2 separate regions of the Homo sapiens genome follow, and region 1 is linked to region 2. A link means that fine-mapping ties the variant in region 2 to the expression of a gene that starts in the linked region. Tissue or cell type: blood mononuclear cells. Region 2 holds a variant in brackets; the other region holds the start of a gene. All regions are shown on one strand. Distances are from middle to middle. Region 1 holds the start of SHISAL2A (shisa like 2A). Region 2 overlaps SHISAL2A (shisa like 2A).

Evidence for each region. PIP is the estimated chance that this variant, and not a neighbour inherited with it, causes the effect.
Region 1: it holds the start of SHISAL2A, and the variant in region 2 is the best candidate, but not a certain one, in a credible set for the expression of SHISAL2A in blood mononuclear cells (TOPMed, PIP 0.62).

What each region holds. Positions count from the first base shown.
Region 1 is chr1:52,631,658-52,634,157 of GRCh38, reverse strand. SHISAL2A (shisa like 2A) reads right to left here and starts at 990. Exons shown (of 3, transcript NM_001042693.3): 1 at 483-990. The coding sequence starts at 664. LOC124904178 (a long non-coding RNA gene) reads left to right here and starts at 703. Exons shown (of 2, transcript XR_007066084.1): 1 at 703-850. RefSeq lists silencers at 663-712, 723-912, 1,003-1,112.
Region 2 is chr1:52,656,158-52,659,171 of GRCh38, reverse strand. SHISAL2A (shisa like 2A) reads right to left here. Exons shown (of 3, transcript NM_001042693.3): 3 at 2,107-2,382. The coding sequence ends at 2,132. Among named protein-coding and RNA genes, the nearest start is that of SHISAL2A, 24 kb to the right of the region's middle. The variant G/A (reference allele first, on the strand shown) is at 1,580.

The DNA.
Region 1 (2,500 bases), 25 kb after region 2:
GGAGGTTGGGGCTGGTGATAGAATAAGGTCTGGGGTCAGTACTGGGGAGTGTGGAAAGTCAGGAATAAGGCTGGTGTTGATATTAGGAAGGGCACCTTGGTGGGATGATGATTGGGGTGGAGTTGGGCTGCCTGTGAATGTTTGAAGATGGAAGTTGCTGTTAGGGGGAGGCTTGATATGTGATTTGGGGTTGGGATGAGGGTGGTGATGGAATGAAGTTTGGGGTGGGGATAGAGTGAGGATTGTTTTGGATTAGAGGAGGGGGAGGTCCGAGCATGGCTCTAAATAATGGTTGGGGTCAGGATGAGGAAATCGAGCTGAGATGGGGTTTCACGGGGTGGTTGATGCTGTGGGCATGAGGACGGTAAGGACTAGAGCTTGCTGCTGATGTTCAGGTGGACACTCGGGTGGGGGCTGAGGCTGGGGTGAAGGCGCTGAGACTGGAGTGGGGTTCAAGGTAGGGTGAGGGCCAGGGACGGTACCTGAGCCACCACATGTAGCTGTGCTCGTAGGGGAAGAAGCTGTGCGGGTCGTCGCAGCAGTACTTGTGGTCGCGGAAGCCGCAGCAGAAGACAGCGGCCGCCTCGCCCCCCGGCCGCGGGCAGCTGAAGCCGCGCACCACCTCCTGCTCTGCGCTCACGTAGCTCGTGCAGGCGCCGCTCATCGCGCCCCGCGCCCAGCCCGCCGCCACCTCGGGCCACCAGACGGCCGGCTAGAGCCCGGCGGGGAAGCGAGGGACCGAGCGAGACGGAGCTGAGCCTGAGAACGGCAGAGACGAAGAGACCCAGGGGCCGAGAGAAGCCGAGACAGAGACAGCAGCGCGGGGCCCCGAGGACCGAGCGGCGGCCAGGTGCCCGGCCCGCGCGGAGGGGTAGGGGCAGGCGGGGCGGGCGGCGGGGGCCGGCGGCGGGAGTGACGGCTGCTGGAACGCGGCAGGAGCCGGAGCGGACGCGGGGAGCTGGGCCGGGAGCCGCGTGCTCGCCTGGCTCTGCCTGCGCTTCCTGCCCCCTCCCCACTGCGCTCCCCCTGCCTGCACGAGGGCGCTGGGTGCGCAACGACAGCACGACGCGGCCAGAGTGGCGGGGCGGGAATTCGAGGCCAGGGCGCGGGCGCCTTACCTGCACCGAGCCGGCGCCGGGAGTCTCGGGGCATTCGGGGCTGGGGCAGACAGACAAGGCACCAGCCGGCGACCACACGGCGGGGTCAGTGAGGAGAGTGAACACAACCTCACCCAACCTCCGCAAAAACCCAGGGGCCCGGGGATGTTCGCATCCGTGTTAAAGGTGAGAGCTGAGGGCCAGAGAGAAGCCATTTCCCGGAGTTCCTAAGCCCACGAGATTTTAACCGGGGGCGGCCTAGTAGGAAGTCCTTGCTCTTTCTGCGGCTTTCATGGTGCCTCTTTTCTAGCGGGCTTTTAGATGTCCTCATCATCTGGAGTCCCTGCTAGTCTCGCTGAGAGCTAGCTCGTGCACGGACAATGTCCACACTCTTCTGTTCATACTGCCTGCCACTGGCCTGGGACAAGGAGCCGAATATGGGTGTGGATGGGCCCAGACGGTAACCTCCTTCCCCACACTGACCAGCAAAGAAAGTCAGCAGACCTGTCCATTTTGAAAAATTACTTCCAGAGAACAAGGGCAGTGTTCTCACTAGCATCAGAGAACCACAGTCTGAAGGGGCTCTCAGTGCCTTGGCTTCCCCCATGTACCCTGTTGCCTTACGCCATCTGGAAGGGCTTCATACAGCACCTTCAGTGCCTTAGCTCTACATTTTTCACAGCAGTGGGTAGGGTAGGAAATAGTTACTGTGGTGCCTCGGGCACCCCCGATTCCTTCGCCCTTGGTTTGGACGTGTGGGGAACGGGCCGTGGGTATCAGGGGATCTGGGCTCCAGCCCAGCTCTACCCCTTCCCTGCTGTTTCTCTCTGAGCTTTGGGTTCCTTGTCCTCACCCAGGCCAGCTCCTCAGATGCTGATTGTGCCGCTGCCCTGACCTGGGTGGGCCCTAGGGCCCCTGAGAGGGATCAGATCTGGGCCTGCCGTTGAGAAACACACAGTCTGATGGAGGAGTCAGACTGACTGACGATCACAGCACAGGGCAGTAAAAAGGGAAATGCAAGGACCTGGACACAGAGGGGCACCATCTGAGGAAGCAGGGGAGGGCTCTGAGGGAGGCGGTGTCCTCAAGAGTCACTGTAAGGTCAAATATGAAAGCTGGAGGGAACTGTTATTATCCTCCAGAACATTCCTCCCCTGAGCTGTGGGTCTGAGCAGACTGGGAGCTGGAGAGCCTACACTAATGAGGGTGCACTTCAGCCTCTTTATCAGATGGAGAGTACAGGGGAGGAATCCTCTGGGAGGGAGAGGCTTCCTGGAGGCCTGGAGATCAGCTGGGAGGAAGAAAGCGCTCTGCCCTGGCTTTTGGCAAAACTAGAAAGCCTCCAACAATTTCCAAAACCCTCTCCCAGCCAAGAATTAATTTGTTCCTCCCAACAGCCCTCT
Region 2 (3,014 bases):
GATTGCTTGTGTCAGGAGTTTGAGGTTGCAGTGAGCTATGATCTCCACTGCACTCCAGCCTGGTGACAGAATGAGACTGTCTCAAAAAAAAAATGCTGAAATAAAAGAGCACACACACACACACACACACCACCACCACCACCACCACCAACAACAACAAATGAAGCAAGACCAGAACCAAAATCTCTTGACTTCCAGCCTAGAACACTTCTGTGGGTGACTCACCCTGTCTTGCCACCCCATCATGTACCCTTTGGCTGGCCTCAGGCACAGGTATCTAAGAGTGACTCTTTCACTGTTGCCAAATCCAGCAGCAGGTCATGTCACTGTCTGAAATGTCAAGAGCTGCTTTTGGTGGCTGCTGAGCTGCGTCTCCACAGTCCTTGTCTTGCATTCCGAAGGCGAAGCCTAAAAGCCATCGCCAAAGTTAGGAGAGCAGCCAGGAGGGAGGGCTGACAGTCAGCATCTTGCCCTAAGATTCCTTTGCGATCAGATTAATAATAAGACATGTTAAAAATAATAATAATAGCTAACACATAGTGCTTTCCATTTGCCAACACTTTTCTATGTACTTGCATGGACTTAGTAATTTAGTCCTTCCCCAAGCCCTATTAGAAGATACTACTAAGATTCCAGCTTATATAGATGAGAGGACTGAGGCACAGAGGTTACCTAGCAAGTAAGTGACAGGGGCAGGATTTTAACCAGGCATTTGGCTCCAGAGTTGTTCAGTATTACATAGTTTACTGTTATTGTCCATTTGTAATTTAAAAAGTCTTTTAGCAGGAATACTATGTTATCATCCATTGGTCATTTAAAAAGTCTTTTAACAGGCCAGGTGTGGTGGCTCACATCTGTAATCCCAGCACTTTGGGAGGCCAAGGCAGGCGGATCACTTGAGGTCAGGAGTTCAAGACCAGCCTGGCCAACATGGTGAAACCCCGTCTCCACTAAAAATACAAAAATTAGCCAGGCATGGTGGCACACACCTGTAGTCCCAATTACTTGGGAGGCTGAGGTGGGAGGATCACTTGAACCCGGAAGGCGGAGGTTGCACTGAGCTGAGATCATGCCATTGCACTCTAGCCTAAGTGACAGAGCAAAACTCCGTCTCAAAAAAAAAAAAAGTCTTCTAGTAATTTAATGTTTACGAAGTGAGTTCAAATCCATCACCTCATTGAACACTTGCAATAACCCAGCAAGGGGACTGAGGCTCAGGAAGACAAGGGACTTTATCAAGGCCACACAGTGGCAGAGTCCACCCTCTGGAGCCTGTATTCAGTCTGATAACCATTCATTCATTCATTCATTCTTCTTCTTTTTTTGTGATGAGGTCTTGCCCAGGCTGGAGTGCAGTGGTGTGATCATAGCTCACTGCAGCCTCGACCTCCAGGGCTCAACTGATTCTCCTGCTTCAGCCTCCCAAGTAGCTGCAACTACAGGTATAAGCCACCACATGTGGCTAATTTTTAAATTTTTTGTAGAGTCTGGGTCTCACTGTGTTGCCCAAGCTGGTCTTGAATAAGTGGGCTCAAGTGATCCATCCACCTTGTCCTCCCAAAGCTCTAGGACTACAGGC[G/A]TGAACTGCCGCGCCCTGCCCCTATTCATTCTCTCACTTAGCACTCACTCCTTCATCTACCTAAGAAATAGAATGACGCCTGAGCCCTGTGCACAACATACTCCCTCTCTATCCGTCCCTCTGCAAGGGGCTTACTCCAGGATGGCGCACTCCAGGGTGAGGCAGAGCTGCTGAAGAGGCAGAGATCATCCCCCTCTGAGGGCTAATCATCTTCTCAGGGGCTCCTAAATACACCTACTGTGGGGCAGGAAAACCATGTCAGAGTTCTCTGACTTCCCAGTTGGGTGAGGGGCTCCTCTGTGCCTTCACAGGCCCCAGGCTTCCACCCGATTGCATGGAGTTGTTACTGACCATTTTTCCTAGGAGTCATGTCAAAGTTCTTTGGCCCACAATAGGCCAAGCAGAACAGTATGGCAGGGTCCACAGCAGGGCTGGGTATCTTTGCTGGGAGAAGCCCTCATTTATCATGCTAGGCTCTAAAGTCCTTTCCCACTCCCACCTTTCACTGAAGAGACTCCAGAAGGGGATGGTATGGAGACATTTATTGAATGTTTATGGGACTGGTCCACATAGGTCAGGGTTGGGTACAGAGGCTTCCTCAGGGCTGCCTGGAATGTCACTGGTGGTCACTGTGGCCATGAAGCAATGATGGAGGAGGCGTTTGGAGTTCACAGCCTGCCCCTCATTGCTCTCCAGCTGCGGGTTCAAGCAGGAGTAACTCTGCTGGAGAGGGCTCACTTTTGGCACTTCTGCCGCCATGCCTGTGTTCACACCTTGGCAGTCAGGAGAAACCTCCTCAGGGCCTGGAAAACAGCAAACTGAGGGTGTGTGGCTCTCTTCTTCCCCAACAGGATCACACTCCCCAGCTGACTTCTCTGGTGCTTACCTTGGGCAGTGCACTGTGGTCAGAGCCTTAGAAGCATCATTTGTTTAACATGTATTTATTAACAATACACCACATTATGCACTGAGAGCTGTCAGTGTTGCTCATGAACTTGTAGTTTGGTGGAGGAAACAGATAAGAAACAATTGTTAAGAGCTATGAAGACTTGACCTTCACCATAACCCTATGAGGTAGGTACTATTAGAAATCCATTTTATAGATGAGAACACAGGATTACCATACAGCTAGTATGGAGAAGAGTGGTGGACATTTTTAAAACATAGATTGTTCTCGCTTTGAGAATAGATTCCATGCTTCTCTTTGCTGAGTGACTTATCTTCTCTCTTCCTCTTAAATCAAAGCTTGAAAGGAAGTCCACTTGGCCTTATTATTCTCTACCTTCCATTCATGACTTGTTCAGCTGCAACTTACTTTGTTCTGCCCCCACTATACCTTCAAACTATTTGTCACTAAACCCATAGTCACTTCTAAATCCTTATCTCCCTTATCAGGAACATTTAACATTATTTATTTATTTTAAATTTTACTTTA